Regions from separate parts of the Homo sapiens genome. Here region 2 is linked to region 1. The links come from fine-mapping of genetic effects on gene expression. A gene starts in region 1. The other region holds a variant in brackets. All regions are shown on one strand. Distances are from middle to middle.

What was found.
Region 2: its variant is fine-mapped to the expression of POU2F3 in unexposed skin (GTEx, PIP above 0.99).

The regions. Positions count from the first base shown.
Region 1 is chr11:120,230,633-120,247,607 of GRCh38, forward strand. It overlaps POU2F3 (POU class 2 homeobox 3), which reads left to right and starts at 9,508. Exons shown (of 13, transcript NM_014352.4): 1 at 9,508-9,739; 2 at 15,817-15,885. The coding sequence starts at 9,712. RefSeq lists a silencer at 4,490-4,712.
Region 2 is chr11:120,299,189-120,309,746 of GRCh38, forward strand. It overlaps POU2F3 (POU class 2 homeobox 3), which reads left to right. Exons shown (of 13, transcript NM_014352.4): 5 at 436-538; 6 at 3,098-3,180; 7 at 5,842-6,024; 8 at 6,456-6,597; 9 at 8,291-8,427; 10 at 10,237-10,398. Among named protein-coding and RNA genes, the nearest start is that of TLCD5, 21 kb to the right of the region's middle. RefSeq lists enhancers at 6,508-7,025, 7,590-8,092, 8,365-8,534, 8,432-8,601. The variant A/G (reference allele first, on the strand shown) is at 5,852.

The DNA of each region.
Region 1 (16,975 bases):
TTTGGCAAGGTGGAGGCAGGAGTGTTTTAGGGGTTGGAAGAGTCTCATGGGTTCCCCAGGTGACCCAACTTTCTCAAGGAAGAGATGGGGACAGTCAGATCCTTCCTTGAAGGCCTTGGCGAGGGAAGGGGTTTGCAGGGTGGTCCCCTTTACTCTGCTCCCAGAACTCCCAGAACAGGCTGCAACTGCCCCTTGAACTCATGCAGGCCAGAGGGTTGAGGGAGCTGGGCTTGCTTGGCCTTGGTTGAGCTGAGGGTCAGCGGGGAGATAACCTTTTCAGGTGGGCACACCTCCCTTCTGAACCTGTTTTCAAGGACCAGCTCAGCCTTGCTGGGGGATGGGGAGGGAGCTGTCCCATCAGTCACCCCCCAGTCCTTTTTCTCCTTCCCTTTCTGCCAGGGCCTCCATCCCAAGCCCCAGCCATTGCTCCAGGTGGGCAAGGGATACTTGGAGAAGGCACCTGCTACCTCCTGTGTGCCTTTTTTGATGGAAGGGGAGTCCCCAAATCAGTATGTTTTCCCTTCTGATTTCCAAGTCACCAAAAATAATGCTTTTTTAAAAAGCAATGTTTTCAAGACTTGGAGTGTTTTTCTGACCTTCCTTGACTAGCACCTCCTAGCTTGTCTGGCCCCTGCAGTGAGGGGGCTCTGGACACCATCACTACAGACACCAGCTGCCTTGGGCTCCTTAGTCTCAGGGGATGGTGATGAGAAGAATCCCTGAGACTTTGGGCTGACCTTAACACTCTGCAAAGTAGGCACCTCCCACAGGGCCACATCCAAGGGCTCGAGTCCACCATTCCAAAGCACTCGCCCAACCGCCTTAGCCCCACTGTCACAGCACCTGAAATCCTGCCGTGACAGTCACTTCTTTGCTGAAAAGCAAATTTTAGTGTGCATCAGAATCACTTAGGAGCTTGTTGAAATAGATGTAGGTGGTCAGCTGTTTGGCAAACACTGAGATAAGACTTCCCTATCGCAGGAGGCTTTTGTGGCCGTGTAAAACACTTGGGAGTGGTAATATCAGTACTTATTTCTCTGCGGACTTTAGGGTTTACAATGTGCCTTCATATAAATTGGCCATTGGCTCCTTGTAGTGACTCTGTAACATTTTATAGATGTGGCTCCCTTATAAAATTGTGTGACCAGCCCAAGTTCAAGTCCAGGCATCTTGTTAGAACAGAACTGAGATCCAACCCCTGTCCTTCTTACTCCACACCCCCTCCCAACCCAAAGTGCTTTATGAGGTTGGCCAGCCAGAACTTCCGAGAGCACAGCTCACCCACAGGAGGGGACCTAGGCTTCGGTGGGACGGGGAGGAGTGTGGAGTGTAGAGCACCTGCTGGGCCAGTCTCTGTAGTAGCAATCATTGAACATGTGGGCAGGGGGTGGTGGGGACAGTGTCCAAAGATTCCTGGGACCAGAATTGGCAGGAAGAACTGCCTGATTTCCGTTTGCCAGGGTAAGCAAAGCACCCTCGGGGAGGCCAGAAACCCAGCCCTGACTGGTGCTGCTGCAAGCCGGGAGGATGAGTTGTGCCTGGTTCCCTGGGCAACCTCACCCGGGCTGGGCTGGACCTCACTATGGACTTCCTGTGGGTTTTCTTCAGGCATCTCTCCCTTCAGGCTTGTTAGCCAAGGGAGGCCTTCAGTGGGGGAACTGTGGGCCACAGCTGGAGGACCTCTACCCCAGGGTCTTTATTGGACCTGGCTCTGGTGGATGAGGGGACAAGGACTCCGGCAAAAAGGAGGGCAAGTGCCACTCTCAAGAACCAAAGGCTCGAGGCCAGCATTGTATCTGAGGAGCATGGGCACCCGCTGGGGCCCAGCTCTGTGTGACCTTGTGTGGGTCACACACATCCCATAAGAGAGAGGGTCTCACTGGGTTATCTCCAAGGTCTTCCCCAACACGGGCATTCCATGTCTAATCGCCTAATATTCTCCCAAATGGTCTATTGGCCATTTGGCTACTGATGGAAAATCGAATTGTTTACTGTGACTTGCTCTTACAAGCCAGGTTGTAGGCAGGAATAGAAAAAACAGGCAACTGACTCTAATCCCAGCACTTTGGGAAGCCGAGGCGGGCAGATCACCTGAGGTCAGAAGTTCAAGACCAGCCTGACCAACATGGCGAAACCCCCTCTCTACTAAAAATACAAAAATTAGCCGGCGTGGTGATGGGCGCCTGTAATCCCAGCTACTTGAGAGGCTGAGGCAGGAGAATCGCTTGAATCCGGGAGGCGGAAGCTGCAGTGAGCCAAGATCGCACCACTGCACTTCAGCCTGGGTGATGGAGTGAGACTCAATCTCCAAAAAAGAAAAGAAAAAACAGGCAACTGGAATGTCTGTGTCACAGGCGTGAACATTGTAGATGCTGTCAGATCACCCTACAGCTGGGGCCGTTCCAGTTTACACACAACTAGCAGTGTCTGAAAGTTCCCGTTCTCTCATATTCCTGTGGTATCAGTCAGGGCTCTCCAGAGAAACAGAACCAGTAAGATACACACATAGAGAAAGATTTATTTTAAGGAATTAGCTTGCTGGATTTTGGGGTCTGGCAAGCCCAAAATCCTAACAAACTAGCAGTCTGGCAGCTGAGGCAAAACTTAATGTTGTGGCCAGCCGGGAGTCTGAAATTTGTAGGGCAGGGCAGCAGGCTGGAAGCTCAGGCGGGACTCTTGTGTTATAGTCTTAAGGCAGAATGTCTTCTTCAGGAAACCTCCATTTTCGCTCTTTAGGCCTTCAACTGATTGGATGAGGACCACCCGCAATACAGGGGTGATCTTTTACTTAAAGTCAACTGATTATAAAGGTAGTCACGTCTATAAAATACCTTCACAGCAACGTCTAGGCTAATGTTTGACAAAACAGCTGGGTATGAGAGCCTGGCCAAATTGGCACATAAAATGAATCATCATGCCTGCCATCGCTTGGTATTGTCATAAACTGTTCGCTGTTTGACCAGTGAGAAACATGACAGCATTCCAGGGCTTATTCTCAGTATCAGCTATTGGCTGTAGCCAGGTGACAGCTGGGATGGTTGTTCCCCTCCACCCTCCTCTGCCCTCACCTGGGATTCCTCACCCTCTGGCTTCAGCCGATGAGAAGCACTGCAGGTGGGAGCACAGGACAGCAGTGGGGTGTCAGTTCCCTGCTGGCTGCCTCAGCACCACACATGTGGCACTGGCTTCATTCCTCCAAGGCTCCAGATCTTCCGGGGCTCCCATACCACTGTCTCCTCCTGTTGCCTCTTCTGCCCTCGCTTCTCTGTGCAGCCCCTCTCTGGGTGCTGGTTCCCTTAAGCCTGCTGGCATCTCTGTCAATAACACCTTTGTTAGAGGCACTCCGAGTTAAGTTGGTTCTGTTTTCCTGCAGAAACCCTGACTGATAACCACAGTGGCCCCAGCTGGGGACCTAGAAGGTTAGTGGTAGAAGGGAAGAGGGTAAAAGCGGGTGGAAAGTGTAGGCTCACTTGGTGGGTATTCAGTGCAGACCTCCATGGAGAAGGGCTGGACCTCAGGAGCTCTCAGTGGAGCCAGGGAAAGACAGTCACAAGGGTGGTGTCCACATGCCCCTGGGGGGCAACTATCTCACCAGCCCTGGCTCCTGTGACAAGGTCCTGATTCCTAAGCAGGGAGAGGCAGGATGAGAGGCAGCTCCCTCCCCTCCTACATCACAGAAAGCAGAAGCCTCGAGAGGAGAAGCCTCTTCACCACTCCCTGGCCTACGCTGGCACCCACCTTCCCAGTTCCCCTCCTGACCTCATGGAGACATGTCTTTTCTCCCCACTCTCCCGGACCTCCCTCTCTGGGGGAAATGATCCCCTCTTCCTCTAGCATTGCTCCCTTTCCTGCTTCCTTCCCAGTGGCCCTGGAGAGTTCGCATTCTTTCTCATCTTAAGAACAAAATAAAAAAACACCTCAAAACCAGGTCCCTCTCCACCTCTGCCCTATTTCTCCCGGCTCCTTCACAGACCACCTTTTTGCCAGCATCCTCCTCCCCAGCACTTTCCAACCTTGGAATCGCTACTCAAGGCTATGCAGCAATCAGCTAGGATATGTGTCACAAGTCATCTGTTACTGAAATGGCTGAACTATTTTCACCGAAGTCAGGGCAGATTCCAGGTCCTTCCCATGTGAATATCACCACCCTCGTGGCTCCTGCTTTCGCGCCTTCACACTCAGTCCTTGTCTATACGCTGATCCCACGGGGATCAGTGCCCTTTGCAGCTGCAAAGGGAAGTACAGGAGGTAGGACATTTTGACTGGCAGAGATGTCCAGCAACAGGACGGATAGCCCAACGGGCCAGGAGCACCTGTCACTGCGTTGACTGAGCAGAAACAACCAAGCTGGCTGACTCCAACTAGGGTTCTGGGCTGAGGTCTGGTCTTTGATGGGGAGCAGGGACTGGAAGACCCAATGGTAGTCTGAAACTAAAATTCAACATCCCCATCTTGCCTAGACCTGGGGCCCTCCCCTGTGCATCCCCCAGCCATGGATGGGCACTCCTGTGAAAAGATCTCTCCAGGGTCTTGCAGGTAGAGGTGCAAAAGTCAGGGTCACACGCCCCTGTGACCACGAGAGGGCGCGCAGGGCCTAGACTTGCCCTGAGCGTGTAAGTGGATTGGGAAGGTTACCTGGGGTGAGGTGGGTCCAGGCAGCCAGGAAAGGGCTGGCTGAGGCAGAGGCTGAGGCTGGGCTCTGTCGAAGGTGCAGTTAGAAAGATCCAGCTCAGGTCCAATGCCGGCCTCAAAGTCAAAAAAATTGATTGGAAGCAGAGTTGCTGTTATGTTGTCTTTAAATTAAATATATGTTGCTATTATCAATGATTCTGAACTTTTAAGTGCAAAATGGACAATGAATGTGTGTGTACTGCCCCCCGACATGGGTGAAGGCTGGGTATGGGGAGATGTCTCTTGGGCAAGGGCAGGGGGTATTCAGCATTAGAGACATCAGAGCAGAGAATAGCTCTGTATCCTGACTCTGGTGTCCTCTACCCATCCCCTCGCCAGTCACAGTTACCTTATCCTGGTTCCCAAGACACCTTTCACTGTGTCACCCTGACACGAACCCCACCTCCACCAAAAGCCTCCCGGCAATGATGCCCTCAGATGTACCTTGACATATGATTTAAAACAGGCCTGGAAGTCCTTCCTAGCCTCTCCCTTGCTCCCATCTGCTTTTATTGGGAATCTGAGTTTGGATCCATTCTCTTTGATCACCCTGAGGCAAGGAGCTGACCCTCTCCTGTACCCCCACGCTCTGGGCCCCATGGCCCATCTGGCAGAAGGAAAGGGCTAGAAGGGACTTGTTCCTTGGTGGCCTTCCAGGATGCCTCACTCTCCGCCCTTCTCCTAGCCCTGACAACTCAATCCAGCTGACAGGACAGGAAATGGGAGTGAGCCCAGGGTCTACAGCCAAGAAGGTCCCTTTTCCCTGCTGAGGTGGGGATGGGGCTTGGGCCCACTCCACGCAGTACCCTCTCCAGGGCTGTGCACCATTTCCACCCACTGTGTCTGGAAAGGAGGCTTGACTCTTAGAGCTTTCTGTCCTTGAAACAAAAGAAGTTGATGATATGTTCAAATAGAAATGAAGCCTGGGGCACTAGTGACTCCCTAGAGGTGCAGCCAAGGGGGTTAGATGTCACTCCAGGAGACCCCGGAGGACCTGGGGAGGGGTCAGAATTGATGACAGTTTCAAAACCACAGCATCCTGGAGTAAGGCTTCTGCTACTCTGAAAAAAGTCCTCCAGCTGTTGAGAGAGGTGGGGTAAGGGAGGGAGGGAGGGATGATTTGCATTTAATTTGCATTTCATTTACATATAGTTCTTTTGATGTCCAAAGGCACAGAAATTTCCTGTCCTGGCTTCTTTTTCCCTTTCTTTCTTCTGTTCCTTTCTAACCTCCAGGCAAACCCCTATCTCTCTCTCTTCCCCACAGCTTTTCCTCTCCTAAGCTAAACAGGGACAGGGAGTATCAGGCTCAGGGGGGTTGACATTTTCCTCTCTATCTCACTCCAGCCCAGAGCTCAAAAAACCGGTTTCATGGAGTCTCCAAGAACTGCTAAAGGAGGAAGGGGTAAAGGAGTTCTCTACGTTCCCATTCTAGCTCATCTAACTGAAATGATCAGTGAGCAAGTCTGAGAGAGAAGGAATAAAGATTGCTCACCATTCCCCCTCAACCCTATACACAGGTGGGACTTAGAGGGCACCCCAGCCTTCTAAGCCTCAGGGCACATGAGGGAGAAGCAGGGAAGAGTAGAAACGTCTCTGCTGAGCCATATGTTTGTTCTGTTTTCTGGGGTAAGTCCCCCTCCTTGTGGGCCTCAGGTCCCTCAAATGAAGGGTTCAATGATATCTAGGTTCTTTCTACCTCGTTATCTGATAAGAGAAGGGGAAGCTCAGATTCAGAAACTGGAGGGCAGGACTAAAATCCTGGCTTTGGGGTTGGCAGCCCTGGGTCTAAATACCAACTCTGTAGTCTACTAGCTGCGTTTACTTCTCTGAACCTCAGTTTTCTCATCTGTAACGCAGGGCTAATAATTGTACCTTCCATCTAAAGTGGCACTGACTAAAATCAGATGGTGTATGTTCAGCATGGAGCACAGTTCTTGGCACGTAGGAAGCACTCAATCTATATTCATTGAGTGAATGAGTAAATGAATGAATGTGAGGGAGTATCTGCTATCCTCTCCCCACCCAGCCCCTTCTGCCCCGTTCATCCTCCTACCTCCACACTCCAAGTTTGGAACCCAAAGCTGTGCCTCCAGCTGTGAACCTCCAAGGTCCTATCTGTGCCTCAGCTTCCACCCCAATCCCCACAAGAACTCCATATCCCCATTCCCCCCAGAACCCCAGAATCCTAGGCTGCTGGAGACAGAAGGCCCTTTGAAATTATCAAATATGGGCCTCTCTGACTTTTGGAAAACTAAAGCCCAGAGAAGAAATGTGACTTTGCACATGAAAAAGGGCAACGGGCCCCAGATAAGGTGGTCGGAGAATGAGACCCTCGGTGCACATGGCCATGCAAATAATATGCAAATAGAGATATGGAAATCACAAGCACACAGGGGTATATAAGCTGTGTGCAGGCATTTTTCCAGAATGGTGGTAGGTGAGTGCAGTTGTAGGTAAGAAATGGACTTCAGGGAAGGGGCCAAACCTGAAGTTGGGGAGGAGAAGAAAAGGCCAGAAGGGGATGGGAGTTGGGGGAGTGTTGAATAGGAGGGAAGGAAGGAACAGAGGCTGAGAGTGTCCTGAGAGGGACCCCCTTGGGCCTCCAATAAGCCCTTGCTGGTCTCTTTCCTCACCCAGAAGAAACAAGAAAAAGTGCAGGGGACGGTGGCTCACACCTGTAATCCCAGCTCTTTGGGAGGCCGAGGCAGGCAGATCACCTGAGGTCAGGAGTTTGAGACCAGCCTGACCAACATGGAGAAACCCCGTCTCTACTAAAAATACAAAATTAGCCGGGCATGGTGGCGCATGCCTGTAATCCCAGCTACTCGGGAGGCTGAGGCAGGAGAATCGCTTGAACCTGGGAGGCGGAGATTGCCGTGAGCCGAGATGATGCCATTGCACTCCAGCCTGGGCAACAAGGTAGAAACTCCATCTCAAAAAAGAAAAAGAAAAAGAAGCAAGAAGAAGTTTCTCTCCTCCCTTCTTTTCGGGAGCGTGGGGAAGGGAGGTCCATGTGACTGGGGAGGGTGGTGTATGTGGACCTGAAGAAGCAATTAAGTGCTTCCTGTTCCTCTGGGGCCACTGTAGCACCCACAGAACACTTTCTGATACCTGTTGTGTGCCCAGCCCTGTTCTAGGTGCTGGGGTGCTGGCACTAGAATGAAGCAATTGATCAGTTACCAACCAGGGGGTAAGCTAAGAAAAGGCCCTCAGAACCTGCCACGAAGGCTGTTAAGAACATGGAACTTAGGCTGGGCGTGGTGGCTCACACATGTCATCCCAGCACTTTGGGAGGCTGAGGCGGGTGGATCACGAGGTCAGGAGATCGAGACCATCCTGGCAACGTGGTGAAACCCTGTCTCTCCTAAAAACACAAAAATTAGCTGGGTGTAGTGGCACGTGCTTATAGTCTCAGCCACTCAGGAGGCTGAGGAGAATCGCTTGAACCCAGGAGGTGGAGGTTGCAGTGAGCCGAGATTGCACCACTGCACTCCAGCCTGGCAACAGAGCAAGACTCTGTCTAAAAAAAAAAAAAAAAAAAAAAAAAAAAGAACACGGAACTTAAACTCTCTAAGCCTCATTTTCCCCATCTATAAAATGGCAATAATCATAGTACAATGTACAGGTTTTGAGGACTAAACAAGAACTAAAGGCACGAAAGATGCCTTTCAAGTGTTGGTCACCCCAGTGCTTGATACACAGTGAAGGCACACGAAATGCTGGGTGTTATCGTGGGCATGACTGGAGTGCACGGTGGGATGGGCGTGCCAGGGGGAAAGGACACTGTAAACAAGGTGTAGAGGCAGGAAAGCCCAAAACCTGTTCTGTGCTCAGAAAGTAGCCCATGGGACTAAGGAGAAGACATGTTCATGAGGAGTCCTGTCTGGGAAGGAAAGCGAGGCCCTGCCCTCCTGTCTGCACACAGCTTTCTGGGCTTCCATGCAGGCCATCCTGTGGTGACAGACCACTTACTGGGACTTGAAGAGACGAAGAGAAAGGGGTGAGCCTATGATGGGTGCTGCAAAGAGCACTGGAGTGGGAGTCCAGAGACCTGATTCCAGCCAGGCTCTGTCACTAGGGAAGTGTGCACCTTTGAGCAAGCCGCTTCCCCGCTCTGGAAGGTGGCTGTCACCAAAAGCCTGGGCACTGGTAACTTCCACATCCATCATCTCGTAGAGCCTCACAGCAACCTGGGACCTGGGGCGGGAGACTGGAGGGGCAAGCAGGAAGCAGTTGTGTGCACCTGGAAACTCTGCTAATAATAAACTGCACCCCGTCTAAATCCCACAATGCTGTGAGGATGCCATGGGGGCTAGGTGAGCTTGGTCACCTGCTCAGCCCAATAGGGAACCCGATTAGCACCTGTCCTGTTTTACAGGTGAGTTAAATGAGCTCAGGGAGGTGAAGAACCTTGTCCCAGCCACACTGCTGGTAAGCGGTTGGGAGGCGAGATTCCAAAACTGAATTCTTTCCAGCAGACCCCCGCGACTTCTCCAAACACTCCAACTCCTTGCAGCGCTTACACTTCGCGATCTGTCCAGAAGGAAGCTCGGGCTCAGGCTGGAGAACCCGCCAGGGCTTCCTAAAAAGGGCGAGCAGGACCAGGAGTTGGCGCCACTCCGGGCGCGGTGAGGAGGTGCTGCCAGGCTGGGTTGGAGCAGGCAGGTGTTCCGCGGGATCGAGACCCGCCCCGGCAGCACCCCCGGCCCCCTCCCCAGGTCCCCAGCTCCATGTATGCAAATCACTGCTTTGCATGGGCCTGGGGCCAGGCGCGGGGCTCCTGCCAGGGGGCGTGGCCGGCGGCCCCCGCCCCGCGCCGCGTGCTCACCTGGGGAGTGTGGCAATCCTGGCGGCGCCGAGTGTTGCCCGGGCCGGAGCAGCGGAGCGCGCGACAGTGGCGGCGACGGCTCCGGCAGCGGCTCCCGCGGCGGCGGCGGCCGGGAACTGGAGGAAGGAGACCCTGGCTTCGCAGGGGCCCCGGCTGGGGCAGAGGCGAGGGGCCTGGGGGGGCGCTGGCTTTGGCCCCGCCTGGGGCAGGATGGTGAATCTGGAGTCCATGCACACAGGTGAGGGGCGGAGGGAATGAGCTCTGACAGGTGTCACTGCGCGTGGGCAGGGGTGAAGGAGAGGGACAACGTTCTGGTTAGGGAGGGGGGCTTGTTTCCCAGCGGCCAGGAGAGGGCGGTGTGGATAGCGGGTTGTCCTGGGGTGGGTGCCGGTCAGTATTTGGGGACTAAAGGGAGGGGATCTGGGATAAGAAACCCTGGAAAAGAATGAGGGTGGGGGCTGGTGAAGGGCGGGAGGGCTTCGAAGCCCCCGGTCTGGGGAGTGGCAGTTGTATGGGACGTGGGTGTACTGAACTGTCATAGTCTCAGGAGGTTGCAGGGATGGGTGGTTCACTCACTCAGCCAGGGGTGTGGACCTGGGAGTGCATAAGTGAGGGAAATGTGTATGTCCACATGCTGTGTGCTGGTGTCCGGGCATATGTGTGAAATGGAGGCAAAGCGGACATTTAGGTGGTTGGGGGGCTTAGGAGAAGTGGCTGAGGTGGGGCAATTACAGAGGTGCCCCTGGGGCAGGGGCCATGCCCCCATGTGTTTGAGAAGGGATGGTGACAGACACATCCTCTGGGTTCCATGTCCCATGCCTTCCTTCCCTAAGGGGTGGAAACCTAGGAGATGCAAATGCTTTGCCGGGAGTCAGGCTTCCCTGAATGAATGAATGAGAGGTGGGCATGGAGGGAACCCAGCCCCTCCATTCACCTTGCTGTTCCTCCTTCCACAGCTGGGCTAAGGCAGGAGCTGCCAGGCAGCCAGGTTGGGCTTGGCTTGGGGCTTCCTGTTAGGGTGGGCCTTCTGGAGGTCACAGGGCCTGAGCAAAGAACAAGTGAAGAAAGCGGTACCTGACCTGGCCATTTCTAACCTAGCAACTTACTCTCAAAGTGGGCAGGACCCAGTGATCTTTCTTTAGGATTTCGGGGCTGTTGATGGGAATGTTGTTACCTGGTCTCCTTTCTGGGAGAGTAGGGAGGAGGCAATGCTCCAGACCCACCCCAAGAAGCAGAGCAGGCCTGAGGCCTACCCAGCCTGAAAACAAGCGTCAGTGAGTGCCCGGAGGGAGGGGACCTGGAGTGCCCAGTTCCCCAGATGCTGTTTCCTGGCAGGGCTGAGTGAGAGGCAGACTGGCAGTGAGATGTTGGCACTGAGTGGCTCTCCAGGACGTGCCAGAAAGGCTAGGTGAGGCGGAAGAAGCCATCCAACTGGGTGTCATCCAGAGTCTGAGGAAAGTCTGTTTCTAGACTGGGCATACCTGGGGCAGATCCCCGGGTAGGTGCTCTCCCCTTCACTGCCCGCAGAGAAGGCCAGGGTTTGAATGGGAGCAAGTCTCTTCAGAAAGGTGGGCTTAGCAGTGGATGGGAAGTTTTTTAGCACCAAGATCACAGACTTCCTGGGGGTTTTCCACCTCCTTGTCTACTGGAGGCTCCCATTCTGTGGAAGTGGGAGGGGGTGGGACAGTTGGGACCCAGCAGGGAGGCAGCCTGGGGCCTCAGAGGATATAGCAGAGAGCAGAGAACACCAGAGGATGAGGTTGAGGCATAGGGCTTGGCCTCTATGCCTTCCCCAGGAGTGAGCTCCTGGCTGATGCTTCTCAGAAGCCCAGACACCTTCTCCACCCTGTCCCTGTGAGCAGGTATTCCCGACACATGGGGGGAGACTGAGCTAAACCCCAGGTGGGGTGATTCCTCAGGGCGGGATCTCCATGTACCTGGGGGTAGATTGCCCAATTCATCTCTCTCCATTTGCCTGCTCCCTCCCCAGCCCATTCCCCCCTCAGGGCTACCTGGCCTCCCTGTGCAGTTTCTGGGTCTTGGCCCCTCTGTAGTGTCTGAGGGTTCCCCTTCAGTGGCACCTCCAGAGGTCTCTGAGTTTAGGACTTTCTGTCCCATCTCTCTAACTGGGTCTCTATTAGAGGGCTCTCTTTGCTGGGTCCTCCTGGTGGCCTTTACTGTTCAAGATCTTCTTTGTAGGGTCTTCCAGTGCGCACCCTGCTGTGGGGTCTGTGAAGGAGGATCGCTCTTCCCTCTATGGAATATCTCATTATGGGTCCCTCTCTAGGGTCCCTTAGTCCAGGATCCTCTTTTGGAAATGTGGTCTCTTTTGAGTCCCATTTTCCCCCGCCAAGGTAATCCTGTATCCTACTGATCTTGATAAATAGTACTTCTCCTGTGAATTCCCAGGGCTGGGTCCTTGGGGTCTCCTCCTTAATTGACTTACTGGAGGAGTTTGGATGGGGGAAGGAGGAGGAACAGGAGCACACAAACTAGAGCATAGGCTTGCTCCCGGGTCGCCCACTCCAAGGGCTCCACTCGCACTGAGGCCAGCTGGAGTTAGCCCCATTGTCTTGCTCTGATAACCTGGGTACGAGCCATGATTCAGGTCTGCCTGGAGCCTTCGCACCTTGTACTTTATAGAGCATCTCTCACCTGGAAGCACAAAGACCTGAGCAGGCAGAGGGTCACCAGACACAGGGGCTCTGCAGCAAGGAGGGGCTCCCTGCTCCCTGACTAAAAACAGGCAGAGAAGTAGACCCGAGACAGCCAGCTAGGGAGGCAGATAAGAGACAAAGGAAAACAGTGGGAAGCCAGCGGGCGGGGGCACACCTGGTTTGCCCCAGGTGTCTCTTTCTCTGCCCTTCTCCTCACTGTGAGCTTTTCCCCACCAAGGTTGGGAAAGGGGGGCTGAGTCTCACAGACGGGTGCCAATTGGAGCTCAGGAATAGCATTTGGGTTGGAAGGCCTGATGATGGGACTGAGAAGAAATGAGAGAAGTCTCCTCTGGCGGAGAGTTGGAGCCTTGGCTAGCTCAGAAGTGGGGCCGGTGGGTCCTTTGAAGTCTCCCAGTGGAAGTGCCGCCATCAGCAGGTATGTGCGGGAGGAGCCAGAGGGAGCTCCCGTCCTTCCAAGAACATGAAGATGGACACTAGGAGAGAGGGCTGTGGCTTCTGCTTTCCCAGAGTAGCCTGGTCCCAGGAGGTCCAGGACCCTCAGCCTGCAGCCTGTGGGGAGTGCTTCCTCTCGAGCTTTCTTCCCTGGGGTTCACAGATGTCTAAGGAGGGCCCACTCCTGGTCAAGCCAACGCTAACTTCAGGGTGTGATGGTGCTGAGTGGGGCAGCCAAGGGTCTGCAGCTGGTGTCTGGGCTCTTTCACAGAGCAGCTGAGCCTCCCCAGGGAAGGGAGTGATGGCAAGGAGCCTACTCAGTGTCTGGCTGAGATAACACAGAGGAGCCTGGCCCCACCCCACACCTCTCTCACTCACCCCTGGCAAGTGCTGTCCGACAGGTGAAGGGTTACAGTGTCTCAGGGAGTTTCGGTGTTGGCCCATTTTTAGGCTGAGACCCAAAAGCTCGTCCCACCCATCAGCCTCAGCCTCCTACCCAACAGGAACAGGTTCTCAGTGTCTTAGCATCCTATGGGACTCAAGAAGAGGCTTGATAGGTTATCTCACCCTGCCCCTCCAATCCTGAAGTGGCACCTTGTTGATCCCATAATGGATACATCAAATGAGTAGACAACATGGCAGATGAGGAGGGGAGGGGGTTGATGCCTTTGAAAGTTATTTTTAGACATGATTAAGACTAAATGTCAGGCTAACTTGAAGGATGAATGAGAGCTTCTGTGTGTATTTGATGAAGGTGATGTGGAGAATGGGTGTTGGAGGAGAATTTGGGTTCTAGGCATGCGATTACAGTTTAGCTAAAGAATTACCTTCTTAAATTTCAGGAGTTTGAAATGAGTTGATTCAGAGACTCTGGTCATCATCCCAGCGTCACTGCCTCTTAACTTTTTCCTGTCCTCATGAACACTTTTTCTGTGAAGTCAGAATTTGGAGAATCCTAATGGTTTCCCAGATAAAGGACAAATTACAATGGTGCTGAGACAGAAAACCAAAGCTATTCCTTATAATGGGGCAAGGGGTTAATGGAGGGGCATGAGAAGAAGGCAGGAAGGGAAGCGGACTAGCATCTAAGCCTAAGTGTCTGTTTAATTAGTTCATTTATTAGGTGCTTACTTTGTGCCTGGAACTCCTTTCCTGGCAGTTTTCATTCAGTATTTCATTTAATCCTCACAAAAACCCTGGGAAGTGTATATCATTATTCTCATTTTTAGGTGAGAAAATTCACATCCGAATATGTGGCTAGGGTCCCCTAGCTAGTTAGTGATGGCATTGAGATTAATCCAGGTTTGTCTGATGCCAAATCCCATGCTCTGAATCCTGGTGCTGATGAAGCAAATTGAAACCACCAGTGGGGGAGAACTTCCTGTGCACCTTTCCAGCAGTCTCTGACTCAGGGCCTCTTCTCAGCACTGTTGAAGAATCCCCATGGTGAAGTATGAGCTGAGCAGATCTGCGTTAGGCAATGCCCAGCTCCAGGGGGGATAGTACTTAATGGGTGGGAGAGGGGAGCCCGTTTCTCCATTGGAACAGAAGGCCAGTGGCAGCAGAAGCCCTTTGCAAATGTGTCTGGGCGGTCCATAGTAGTTATTCTGCATATTCATGCATGGCAAACTATAGAGAGTTTGAGACTGCAGCAGGACGGATTGAGGTTAGGCTCAAGAAATGCCTCCCTAAACGCTGTGCACTAGGAGGGGAGGGGGTGGGGTAAGGTTGCAGGTCTTCCTCAGAGCTCTGTGACCGACCACAAAGTGCAGTGTAGATTTGTCTGGGGAGGGTTCCATAGAGCTCTAAGTGTTTACCTTGGCGTCTTCCCTCAATTTGGCTGGTCTTGAAAACTCCTTAAACCACAGTGACTCCTGACTTTCTCCCCTATTTCTGGGGTATTCTAGCCTCTAAATCTCTGGATCCCCCATCTATGTCTTGTTTGGCATCGAAGCTGCTACACTCCAGAGGTGTACACCTCGGCCGGAGCCACACACGTTAGTCCTCACACACATGAAAAAGTAGGTTTTCTCCCCTCTTTCCCTGGGGCACAGGTCTACCCTTTTTCCTCATCCTGATCATCTCCAGACCTGGGCATCCGGACTGCCAACTGCCTGATTACCTGATGCAAATTAAGACTGCCTGCTTGACTGGGATTGGCTGGGGAGCTGAGTACGCAAATTGGCTCACCAAGACTTTATCTGGTTTGAAAGAGTTAAAGTGCTGCCCCAGAGAAGGGGGGGTGTGGGGGTCAACATGATTTGAATAAATATTCTTCTGTCTTTAAGGCTTCAGTCTTTGGGTGGTTTAATAAGGAGAGGAGCAGAGAGAGAGTGAGTTGGTTCAAAGTTGCCTCTCTTCTTCCCCCTGCTGACCCCAAGAGGAGACTTAGGGGCCTCCCACATAGGTGGTGGCAGCTGTCTGTTAAGGGTAAATGTTTAATTTATTGAAATGAAGCAGGGCAGAGAGGCTGGACCAGCAGGACTTGGGGGCTGAGCCAGGGGCCTGGTGTAGGTATTCTCTTTCTGTGGGGCACTGACCCGCTGCCATCCCTTTCTCACTGAGCCAGTTGAAGGAGTAGGAGAGAAGGTAAGGATCCCCAAAGGACAGGATCTCCAAGGAGGACAACACAGGAGCTAGGACTTGATCCCCAGACTGTGGGCTGACCTCTGAGACCAGACAGAGAACCCAGGCAGGACCTGGGAAGAAAGGTGAGAAGGGCAAGCCTTGGTTTAAGGGCACTCTTACCTTCCAGGATGGGGTTATTAAGGGAAACAGAGCTGGGGAGGCAGGCGGGGAGGGATAATTCTTTCACTATTTAAAAATAAAATAAATTCCTCAGATCCCAAAGGAAACGAGTGTTGGAAATGGGAAGTGTCCCCTCCACCCCCTTGTTAAATTTTTACCAACTGAGTCCTGGTGATAGAAGCAAGTGGCCATGAATGATGCAAAAGGTGAGAGACCCTGCAGTGGCACCGGGGAAAGGGGAAGAGAAAGGCAAGGAGAGGAGGCGAGCATGGGAGGAGGGGATCCGTGCCCTCAAGCTTATGAATATTCTAATGGTTGTATGTTCGGGAATCAGGAATTTGAAAGTCTGATGGTTGTTGTAATTACACATTCATCTTTGTTATTTAGTTAAAGCCACATATGTCATAGCAAGAAAAATTGTGACCTGTTATTAAAATCAGTTGTGTTTTCCCTGCAGATATCAAGATGAGTGGGGATGTAGCCGATTCCACGGATGCTCGCAGCACTCTCAGCCAGGTGGAGCCAGGTAAGGGTCTTCTCTTCTCGGGGATGGAGGGGGTGGGGGGAAGAGAGTTGTTGGGAATTGTTGAACAACTGGTGTCTCTTCTTGCTTGGTCTTTCAGCCAACCAGACCCCAAAGCTAGGTCTTAGGAACTAAGGGAATTCCCTGAGGACATGGGATATGATTCTGGAGCCTTTGAACAGTAGATATTGCTCCACAGTGGAACAAAACCTCTGGAATTAGGCTAGGAAGAGACCAGATACTTAAAAACAGAACAAAACCAAAAAAGTTCAGGAGCAGCTGTGTTCCCAACTGCTGTGACTGGCAGAGGCAGAACCTGTCTTTCTTAGATGGGGACAAGGCCTTTTAGCCCCAGATACCTTGATAGTCCTACTCAAGGCACTAACCAAAGAGGCCTGTGTACAAATGTTTCTCTTCCAAATAACGTGCATGTGGGTGGCAAATAGGCTCAGAGAGAAAGGCTTGGTGCCTGGAGGTGACTTTGCTTTGGAAAGAAGGGAAAGGATGTCAGTAGTCCCAGCTAGTCAGCAGGCCAAGGTGGGAGGATTCCTTGAGCCTAGGAGTTTGAGGCTGGACCGTCCCAAAAAAAGCTGAGAGGAACAAAGAAGAATTAAAAAAGAGAGTTTCATAGCTCTCTATTTTTACCTCCATAGTTCAAGCCTTGCTTTGAAAGCTCCATATAATTAAAAAGAACTTAAAGATGAGTATAAATTGTAGCACCACCAAATAACTTTAATAGCATTCCAACCAGACCTCAATTAGTCTTTCATCTGGATCATTAGAGACATAGAAATTAGAAGTGGAAGAGAATCAATGTCCCCCAGAGCTAAAATCTTTTTCAAATCTTGTAGAGCAGTGTAGTTCCATTCTTGAAGCTATGAGATTCTTGTCAGGGGCAAGATAATTGGGGGTCTTGGCGGGGAGGGCATCCACAGTATGCATTTGCCATAAACTTTTCTGCTCCCCAGTTTAATACTGAAACAGTGTTTCCTTGCACAGGTAGCAATACACATCAAACTACAATCTTTCTATTTTGCTTTGCTTATGTACAGAGGCAGCAAGACTAAGGAGAATGTGGGCCGGTCACACTCAT
Region 2 (10,558 bases), 65 kb after region 1:
CAGGAAACAGCCGAGGCATGGCTTTTAGCATAACCAGGTGGCATGAGATTTAAAAAGAATTGGATAGTTGGGGATTGCATGTTATCTCTAGGATAAACTTTGAGAGATGGGTCATACCCAGGCTTTGCCTTCAGGGCATTTTATAGTCTAGTTGGGAGACAGGACTGACACATACAAAAATTAACTCAGGAGGCAAGGGTTAAGTAACAATATGTAGTAAGGACTCCTAGGCTGAGGGCAGAAGCTGTAACAATACCAGTGTTAACGGAGTAGCTACTATTTGCTAGACACTGGGGATACACAGTGGCATAAACCAAGGTCAGCCTGCAAAGTCTCTGAGTCTGGAGACCCCTGGGACGGACGAGTGGCAGGCAGATGGGGCTGATGTCCCCAGCTTGTAAATTCTGTGGTGTATGTGTATCTCTCCGTGTGTAGGACATGGCTTCCCTCCATCCGCTCCAGCAGCTTGTGCTGGTTCCCGGCCACTTACAGTCTGTATCCCAGTTCCTGCTATCTCAGACCCAGCCTGGGCAGCAAGGTAAGAACCCTGGGGGTTTCCACCTAGACCAAGTCCAGTCAAGTGCTGCTGTTGCTGCTGTTTTTTGCTGGGTGAGGGGGCCTAATTGGAGAGCATGCGTCAGTCAGTCACCCATCTGCTATTAAGACCTACTTATCCACCCCAGGGTCTGAGGAAGGGACCCTGGCAATGCTCCTCCAGGCTTAGTCTCCTTCTCTGCTTCCCCTTCCCAGCCTCCTGTTGGGTGGTCTGGTCCACCTCCTCAATTTCGTGGTGAGTGGAGACGGAAGGTGCAGGCGTGGAGCAGAGCTATGCTGTACAAGGGAGGGGAAGCGCCCTGGGAAATGCAGTACAGACAAGTCCCAATTCCTTGGAAATCTCTCCTGGACACAGATTCAGACTTGCTTCCTGGAAGCCTGGCTGTGATTCTATTTGGAGAGAGCAGCAGTGCCACCCACAGGTTGTAGAAAGGGTGTTCAGGTTTTCTTTGGCAGGGAAGTTACTCGCAGAGAACTTCTCCCTGGCCAAGAGCAAATAGATTGAACTATTAATAAATAGCTAACATTTCTTGAGCATGATGTGCCAGGAGCTCTTCTGAGTAATTTTTCTGACATTCCTCAAAATAACCTTGTAAAGTAGGTAGTTCTATTATGCCTCTGGTGACCTACTGGGAAGTTCCAGAACCGTTTAGCTGAGACCCATACTCTTGGTCATCACAGTGTGCTGCCTGTCCCACTCCCATCTCCATCAGCTAGGGTCAAAAGTGATGGAGGGTTGGCCAGGCTCGGTGGCTCACGCCTGTAATCCCAGCACTTTGGGAGGCCGAGGTGGACGGATCACTTGAGGCCAGAAGTTCGAGACCAGCCTGGCCAACATGGTAAAACTCTGTCTCCACTAAAAATACAAAAATTTGCCGGGTGTGGTGGTGCATGCCTGTAATCCCAGCTACTCAGGAGGTTGAGGCAAGAAAATCACCGGAACCTGGGAGGCAGAGGTTGCAGTGAGCCAAGATTGCACCACTGTCCTCCAGCCTGGGCGACAGAGCAAAACTCTGTCTCTGAAAAAAAAAAATAATGGAGGAAGTATAAACTCTCTCCTGTTGCACAAATCCCAAGTAGAGGTTTTGGAAATCCAGAATCCAAACAAAATGCAACTCTGCCTTCCGCCCTTAGCACCTGCACAAATGACAGTCACTATCCTTAGTTTCCAAGGCACCTCAGAATATTATGGTGATGAATGAGACCCTATTTGAATTTTTAAGTGTTTATTTTGGTTAAAAAATAAACATCATACTCCTGGAATGGAAAAGGGAAGGTAACAGTTTAATTTGTTTTCAGAAGACTGGAGAGCGACATGAAAATGGCCCAGGCTTATAACCACCTAGGTCAGTGTATGATGCAGTGGTGGAAAGACACTTCCAAATTTGGAGTCAGAAAAATTTACTGGTTTCTTTAAAAAGTCACTTACTAACTGTGTGTTTTGGGGAAAGTTACCTAACCTCTCTGAGCTTCCATTTCCTCTTCTGAAAAAATGGGATAATAGCAAGGCTCTGCCTCATGAGATTATTGAGAGTCACTTGAAATAATGCATGTGAAAAGGCTGTATCCATTTCAACCGCCATGTCAGAATTGCCATTAGTACCCAAGCCTCTCAACTCCCAGTTCTGGATTCCTTGTAAGAGCTTTCTTGCCTATGTATTTTAATAATGAACAATGAAGCCCTGACTTTTTGAAACTGAAGAGCATAAAGGTCAACATCAGCAGATGCTGTATGTACATTGTGACCCAGAACAGCCTAGGGAAAACAGAGACCCCAAAGTGCTGTTGAGTGACAAGCGATTGGGATGACCAACCCCATTGTCTGCTTTGGTGGTTTGATGGCCCCACTCCTGCTGGGAGAGTGAGCCACCAACCAGGCAGAGTCCCTCATGTACCGTTTTCCTGGGGAGGATGGAGAAGCCGGTATAATACATACTGCCCAAGGGAGTTTCCAGAGGCTCAGCCCTGGACTTTCCCTCCTCTCTCAGCCCTCTCTCCCAAGTATAAAATGTCCTGGTCAGCCACATGCCTCTGGCTAAGGCCCACTGCCCTTTAGAGCCGTATGGTCGTATCTGCTTGGTCTGGCATCCTCGCAGATTTGATTGGGCCTCTGTAGCCATAACCCAGCTACTTCTCCTGCAGGGAAAGCCAAAATCCTCAGCCCTAGCTTGAATTCTCAGCAGCCACCCTGCATCCTTTCCCTTCTTGGTTTTCTTCAGCTCTGGTAATCAGATCCCAGAGTAGATCGTCTTGACCCTCCTTAGCCTCTACGCCTCTCCAGACAGGCGGGCAGGTGGAAGGACTGGTTTGGGGACTGCTGTTTACATGTCTGTTTATCCCTGTATCTGATTTGCCTCCACCTGTATGTGGCAATGCCTGGCAGTGCTAGGAGGGCCTCTCCATGGGACTTGAGGTGGGTGGAGGGACCTGATCAGGTGGCAGGGGGTGGGGACAGTGATCGTGGTGCCAAAGTTGTAGCACATGTGTTTCAAATAGCCTGGATTTTATTTGTCTGTTCCTTTGTCCCTCCCCTTTCACCCAGGTCTGCAGCCAAATCTCCTCCCCTTTCCACAGCAACAAAGCGGTCTCCTCCTCCCACAGACTGGGCCGGGACTGGCATCCCAGGTAAACAACCCCATTCTTCCTGTTTCCTCTAGGAATGTCTCAGCTCTCACTGAGTTTAACTCACTGGTTTCCCCCTACCCCTTTAACAGGGCACTAACCCCTCTGGGGAGAGGGGATAGCAGGGAACTATCCATTGGCACAGGGGAAATCCAAGCTACAGCAAGTGGGGGGACAATTTACCAAGTGTCACTGGTGGGGCCACAGTTAGAATCCAGAGATTCCAGCTCCCAGGCCAGCCTCCTTCATGCTCCAGGCACTGAACTCCAACCCTGCACAGGCCCCAGCATTGCTCCTCTGAGAGCCAGGCTCAGCTCACTTCTCAGGCATACCAAGATGGCCACGAACCCTACCTAGGTGCTCTCAAGCCCCAAGAGGGAGACTAGAATACTACAGACCTGATGTCCCAGACCACAAAGCCAGTGTCTTTCACCTCTGGGCCACTATTCCAGATTGCCTCCTGCAGTGGGCACGTATATAGGCCAGTGGGCTGAGGTCTGGGAGAGGGGTTGTTTGCAGAGCTGCCATGGTTCCACACAGCACCTTTTTTCCAACTAGGAAAAAGGCACCTCTTCTGGCCAGGTGCAGTCTCATGCCAAGGTGGACAGATTGGCGACAGCAGCATGAGCTGTATCTTAGCTGCCATTCCTCCCCTGATCTGGGTGCCCCTGTACAGTTAATAACCTGCACAGCTGCATGAGATGGCTCTGCACAGATGGTTGGGCAGAATGGTTGGGAATGACTGCAGAGATCTCTGTGCTAAGATCCCCATGGCTCACCAAGAGCCCGGCCTTCAGAGAGGGCTGAGGCCACTAAAAGTACCTGGAGGGGAAGCTCGCCATCTAGTGGTTGAAATGGGGACACCAGCATCATAAGCTGCTCTTCCGCCTCCTCCTGGCTGCCCTCTCCAGAATCTCATAGCCATGGGCTTACAGCTGGAAGAGATCTTAGAATCTTCAAGATCAACTCTCATCTCTTATCATATTTTGGCATGGAGAGACTGGTAGCAGAGAGACCACATAGAAGATTATGAAGATCATCCAGGGGAGGGGTCATAAAGGATTGGCTTAGAGTTGTGGCAATAAGAAGAGGGGATGATTGAGGAGATGCTTTGGGAAGTTGAATCAGTGCAGTTTGCCAGTGGATTGGAGATGAAAGGAGGAGGGAGAAGGTCTAGCAGAGAGCCCCATAAGTCTTTGTCAAATGAAAGAACAAATGATTTAATGAAAAGGAAGGTTCAAAGAGGACTGGGGCTTTGTCCTGAGGGTCTGGTCTATGCCACACTCTCCTCACACACCCTCTCCCTGCAAACTAAGACCAAATTCATGATGGTTTCAGACTAAAAGACCCTTCACTGGGGGAAAGACTCCTAAACTTCTCTCTAGAGGTCCTTTTACCTTCTTCATCATAAGGATACCTATCTGAATGGTAAACCCAAATATCCCAGAGGAGAAGAAGTAATGTTTAGTCTACAAAAAGTAAATCAAAAAGGAGAGAAGAGGTGGATTTAGCCCTTTGAGCTAGCTGGCCACAGTGCCTGGACCCCTAGGCCCAGATTCCACTCTATCCTTGTGGAATGATAGATGTCCTTAAGATCGGATTCATTCCTGACCCCAAATAGGCACAGCATGGTTCTAGGTTTAAGGGTACGTTTTCCTATGAAAATAAGCTCAAGAAATAATATTTGGCTGGGCACGGTGGCTCATACTTGTAGTCCCAGCACTTTGGGAGGCCAAAGCAGGTAGATCACTTGAGCCCAGGAGTTTGAGACCAGCTTGGGCAACATGGTGAAGCCCTGTCTCTAAAAAAACAAAAGTTAGCCAGGTGTGGTGGCACACGCCTGTAGCCCCAGCTGTTCAGGAGCCTGAGGCAGGAGAATGACTTAAGCCCAGGAGGTTGACGCTGCAGTGAGCAGTGATTGTGCCACTACACTCTAGCCTGGGTGACAGAGTGAGATCCTGATTCAAAAAAAAAAAGAAGAAGAAGAAGAAAAAGAGAGAAAGAAAGAATATCTCCTAGCAACCCAAATGTGATCAAGGTGCATTTTATAAAGGTACTGATTAAAATACCTTTGATTAAAAACAAAACACTTTCATGAAAGAAAATGGTGGTTTAGAAAGTAAAATGAGGCACAAGAGTTTGACATTTTAGGAAAGTTCTATGAAGGCCATGAGTTATTGGATGTCCCCTGTTATCTTCAGTTAATGCCTGTTCAACACCTCAGTTACCTGCTTTATGGAAAAAAACAAAAAACAAAAAAACAAAGCAAGCAACCTTTTCTTTGTCCAGTTCTGTGATTTGTTTTTGGAATCTTTGTAAACAACCCTGCTAGCTCCTTTTATGGTAGAAAACTGAAAGGAGGAAGTAACCTGCTAAGACTCAAAAAGTGAGTCACAGGCTAAACTCAGGCCACCTCCCTATCCTGCACTCCTGATGTTTCTACCCAGATATTCCAGTTATTTGCTATACATTTATAGAAACTTTAATTTCCACTTCCATGCCACTGGAAAAATATAAGACTCCAATGTACCCAGGGTGTATCCAGGGATCTGTCATCCTCTAAGTGGGCCTATTAGTAAAAAAAAAAAAAAAAAAAAAAAAAAAAATCAGAAAATGTTATTTATTGATCTTCGTGGTGGATCTGCTTGGCGTGTTTCCTATCAGGCATTTGGGC[A/G]CCCTGGGCTGCCAGGATCCTCTTTAGAACCCCACCTGGAAGCATCCCAGCATCTCCCAGTGCCCAAGCATCTACCCAGCTCTGGAGGGGCCGATGAGCCCAGTGACCTCGAGGAGCTGGAGAAGTTTGCCAAGACCTTCAAGCAGAGGCGCATTAAGCTGGGCTTCACACAGGTTTGGTTTTAGGGGAAAAGATAGAAGAAGTCTAGCCGAGCGGCTGGAGACTGGGCTTCCCAAGTGCAGGTTTCAAGAGCGACCAGAGGCTCGATGTGTTTGGGGTCTCCTCATCATGTCCCTGAGTTCTCTGAGAATAGGGCACAGTTGCCATTGGTAGGGAAACTGAGGACGTTGCTGGTGGAGGAGAATGAGAGGTGGAAAAGGGGCTGGCTCTCCTGAGCACGTGGGCGTGGTCCACTGAGAGTCTAAGGAGAGAAAGAAACCGATTCTTCACCTTAGAGGGAGGAGACTTGGAAAGGAGCCGAGCATGGGTGAGCACTCAAAGATTCAGGCTGGCTGTGTGATCGATGCTAGGACCATGCAGGATGTGGGCAAACAAGAGGAGGAGGCTGCCTCTCATGTTCCTCCCCCTCGGTCCCCACGCTTAGGGAGATGTGGGGCTGGCGATGGGAAAGCTGTATGGCAACGACTTCAGCCAGACCACCATCTCACGATTTGAGGCCCTCAACCTGAGCTTCAAGAACATGTGCAAGCTCAAGCCCCTGCTGGAGAAGTGGCTGAATGATGCAGGTAGGCCTCGCAAACACGGATGCCAGGGGCCCTAGAGGGCTCTGCAGGGAAGGGCCAGTGACTTGTCGTGTTGGGGCTTTTGGGAGTTTGATACCTAACACCCCCTTCTTCTCCTGAGACTGGAGCCGATGGAGAAACAAGACACAGGACACAGGCAAGTGTAGATGAAAGTGTCAGCTCGACTACTGAGAAGCCCTCAGAAGGATGTGGATTTAGGTCTGTGTCCATCAGGATTTGTCCCCATTCCATTCCTACCCCATCCCACCCAGCATAGATCTTAGGACAGCTTGCCAGCAACAAAGTCTGGATCTGCAGAGCAGATACACTTATGCAGATTGCTGTCTGGAATAAGTCTAGTCAGGGATACAGGGCAGTGGGGCCTCTAGGGTCTCACTGGGAGGGGGAGACCACAGGCACGACACAGGGTCTTTCCCTGGGTAGTTCTTGAGGAGGTTTTCAGCAGACAGGGACTTACTGCAACCCATGCTGGTCAGGAAAGCCTGACAGCAGGAATGGGGTTTGCAGGAGGACTCAGTGAGGGGTGGTGGCCGGGAGGCAACCCAGGAGATCAAGCGTGTAAGCCAAGGGACCTCACATTTGGCAGCAGGGACTAGCATACAGGATGGGGCTTCTCAACCTTGGCACTATAGACATCCTGGGCCAGGTCATTCTTGTTACCAGGGACTGGCCTATGCATTGCAGGATGTTTTGAGCATCCCTGGTCCCTACCTACTAGTTGCCAGTAGCATCCACCCCCAGTTGAAACAGCCAAGAATCTCTCCAGACATTGCCAAATGTCCCAGGGGGAGTGGTGGTGATGCAGAGTCCCCCCCGGTTGAGAACTGCCGGCCTAGGCAGAGAGAGGGAGTGAGCCAGTCTCCAGGGCTGGGCTCTATTCAGTCGATTCATATGGATTCGTGGTTACACTGGAGAGGGAGAAAAGGGTGGGGCAGCCAGCCAGGGCTGTTACTCATACGGAAGGGCCTCCACACGCAAGCATGGGAGGGGGCAGGAAGCTCCCCCTACAGGCTGTCCCTTAGACAGCCTTTATGGAAGCACTGAAATGAGCGAAATGATCCGAAGGTCTTCGAATCTCTGGGGAAGGGCCCTGTGACCATTCCTAGTCTCCATCAGATGCCTGAATCCTTCCTCAGGGATATCCCTCCTATGGCCCCTACAGCCTTAGCTCAAACATTTGCACTGGCAGGAAAATGACTCCAACACCAACAGTCTGTCACCAAGTGCCATTGCTTTTGGCTGCAAATCTCATTTCACATTTCACTCAGTATTCACATCCAGGCATATCTGTAAACAGCAGCCTCACGAGCATTACTCACAGGAGCCCTGCCAGTGCCCCCTTACACCCACATGTGTCACCGATGCATGAGCATCCCTCAGCTGTGACCCCAAACACTGGAGACACTGCTGTGGGGGCCACAGAGGGCCATGGAGGGTCACGGAGGGCCACAGAAGGCCATGGAGGACAATGGAGGGCCACGGAGGGCCTTTGCCCTGAGCAATGAAAAGAAATAGGATTCTTGGTCTGTTCTGGGCTCCCTGCTGGGGGAGGGGATTGCTCCTGAAAATGCCACTGCAGAGCCCATCGGGAAGGGTTGTTGGACCTCAGATCCATGAAGGCACCGGCCACTCATCCCCTTCTCTGAGCTTCCTCTGGTCCTTCGTGTCCCTGCAGAGTCCTCTCCGTCAGACCCCTCAGTGAGCACGCCCAGCTCCTACCCCAGCCTCAGTGAAGTATTTGGTAGGAAGAGAAAGAAACGGACCAGCATCGAGACCAACATCCGCCTGACTCTGGAGAAGAGGTTTCAAGATGTGAGCAGCACCTTCGGGTGGGCACGGGTGGGCTACCTCACACAGGTAGGGAGAGCAGACACGGCCCAGGCCCCTTGGCACCAGCCCCTCCGCACCTCACACCTGCTCTGGGACACGATCAGAAAACACATTATCCCACTCCAGGCGCCCAGGTATTGGAGTGCAAAGCTGCCCTCCATCTCAGGTTCCAGGAACCTCCTCCTCCTCCACTGACCCTTCTTGCCCTGACATCTATTTAGGGCCCTTTGTTTTTCTCACTGGGAGATTTAAAGAATGGGCTATAGGGTCCCAGAACACAGTGTATCTCCGTATCCAGTTGAGGTAAAGGGAGCAAAGTCAGGGGATTGTATGTAAGTTCTCTATTTTCTATGCAGTACATTTTGTATTTTTCAAATTATAAATGTAATAAATGCTTATTGTAAACAATTTAAGTGCAGGGAAGTAGAAAGAAAAAAAACGCCCATCGCCAAATGCCATCTGACCTCATTTCCTTCTACTCCTTCTTTTCTATGCACATTTAGATACTTGTGATCGTGTTATACACCTACGTTTTTTGGAACTTGTAGCAAAAGCATGTTTTTGAGCCAGTATGTGGAAGCTGTGAGCCCCGTGTGGGCTGGGGAAGAGAAGAGGGAGAAACAGATGTGGCCTAGCCAGCCTCTAGCCAGGCTCCCTCAGATCCCAGCCTCCAGAGCCGCCATGGGTACCACGCGTCTCCAAAGGCCCCAGGCCTCCAGGACTGCTGCCCCTCCAGCAGATTCCTCGCACATTTAGCTCAAAGATTTGGTGCCCATATCCAGCTAGCAGAATGACAGGAACTGGCTTTTCCTTCTTTTTAGGCTTTCTAGAGTGGCAAGGTTAAGGGAGGGTGTAGGAGTAGGGGAAAGTGGCCGGGGCTAGAGACCAGGTGTGAAGGATCAGAACAAGGGAGTGGCGCCCGTGTAGCATGTATTGCTATGCCACAGTCCTGATGGGTCCACATGTTTTAGCTTTCTCATTTTCTGCTTTGAGACAGGAGGACAGGAAGAAATGACAAGGCAGGCCAGGCATGGTGACTCATGCCTGTAATCCCAGCACTTTGGGAGGCCGAGGCAGGTGGATCACCTGAGGTCAGGAGTTCAAGACCAGCCTGCCCAACATGGTGAAACCCCATCTCTACTTAAAGTACAAAAATTAGCTGGGCGTGGTGATGTATGCCTGTAATCCCGGCTACTCAGGAGGCTGAAGCAGAGAGAATTGCTTGAACCCGGGAGGCGCAGGTTGCAGTGAGCGGAGATCGCGCCACTGCACTCCAGCCTAGGCAACAGAGCGAGACTCCGTCTCAAAAAAAAAAAAAAAAAAAAAAAAAAAAAAAAAAAAAAGAAATGACAAGGGAGAAGGACATCAGGTAATAAGGAAGAACACAGAAGGGAGCAGCAGCTCTGGGGACTCTACCTGCCCCACATAACTCATCCATGGACTTCTCTCCTCTGAACTCATGAATGAAGGAAAGACAGCCTACATCTATGGAGACCCTACTTTGTATCAGGCCCTGTGCTTGACAGTTTACACACATTTTCTCATTTAATTCTCACAATAATCCTATGTGGTGGGCATGATTATTCTCATTTCATAGATGACAAGACAGGCTCAGAAAGGTTAAGAAAGTTTTGTAAGGACACGTAGTAAGTGAAAAAGCCAGTATTTCATCCTAGGTCTGACTCTAAAGCTTTTGATCCATGTATAGTTGTATCCTGTTTCTTTGGGACCTCTGTTCCCTGCCCCTGATTCCCTTCTCTTGGCCATACTCTGTCCTTTCGGTGCCTATAGAACCCAAAACCCAGCTCGGAGGAGATCTCCATGATTGCAGAGCAGTTGTCCATGGAGAAGGAGGTGGTGAGGGTCTGGTTCTGCAACCGACGCCAAAAGGAGAAGCGAATCAACTGCCCTGTGGCCACACCCATCAAACCACCTGTCTACAACTCCCGGCTGGTGAGTGGCCAGGAACCAAGCTGTCTGCCAAGCACTGGAGGGACATGATGCTTGGAGGGGAAGGTGGTGGCTGCAGGGAAGAGGGGAGCATCCAGTAAATAAATAAGCAAAGAGATGCTGTATAGAATATAGTATAAAGAAGGGCGAGGGAATAGAAGGG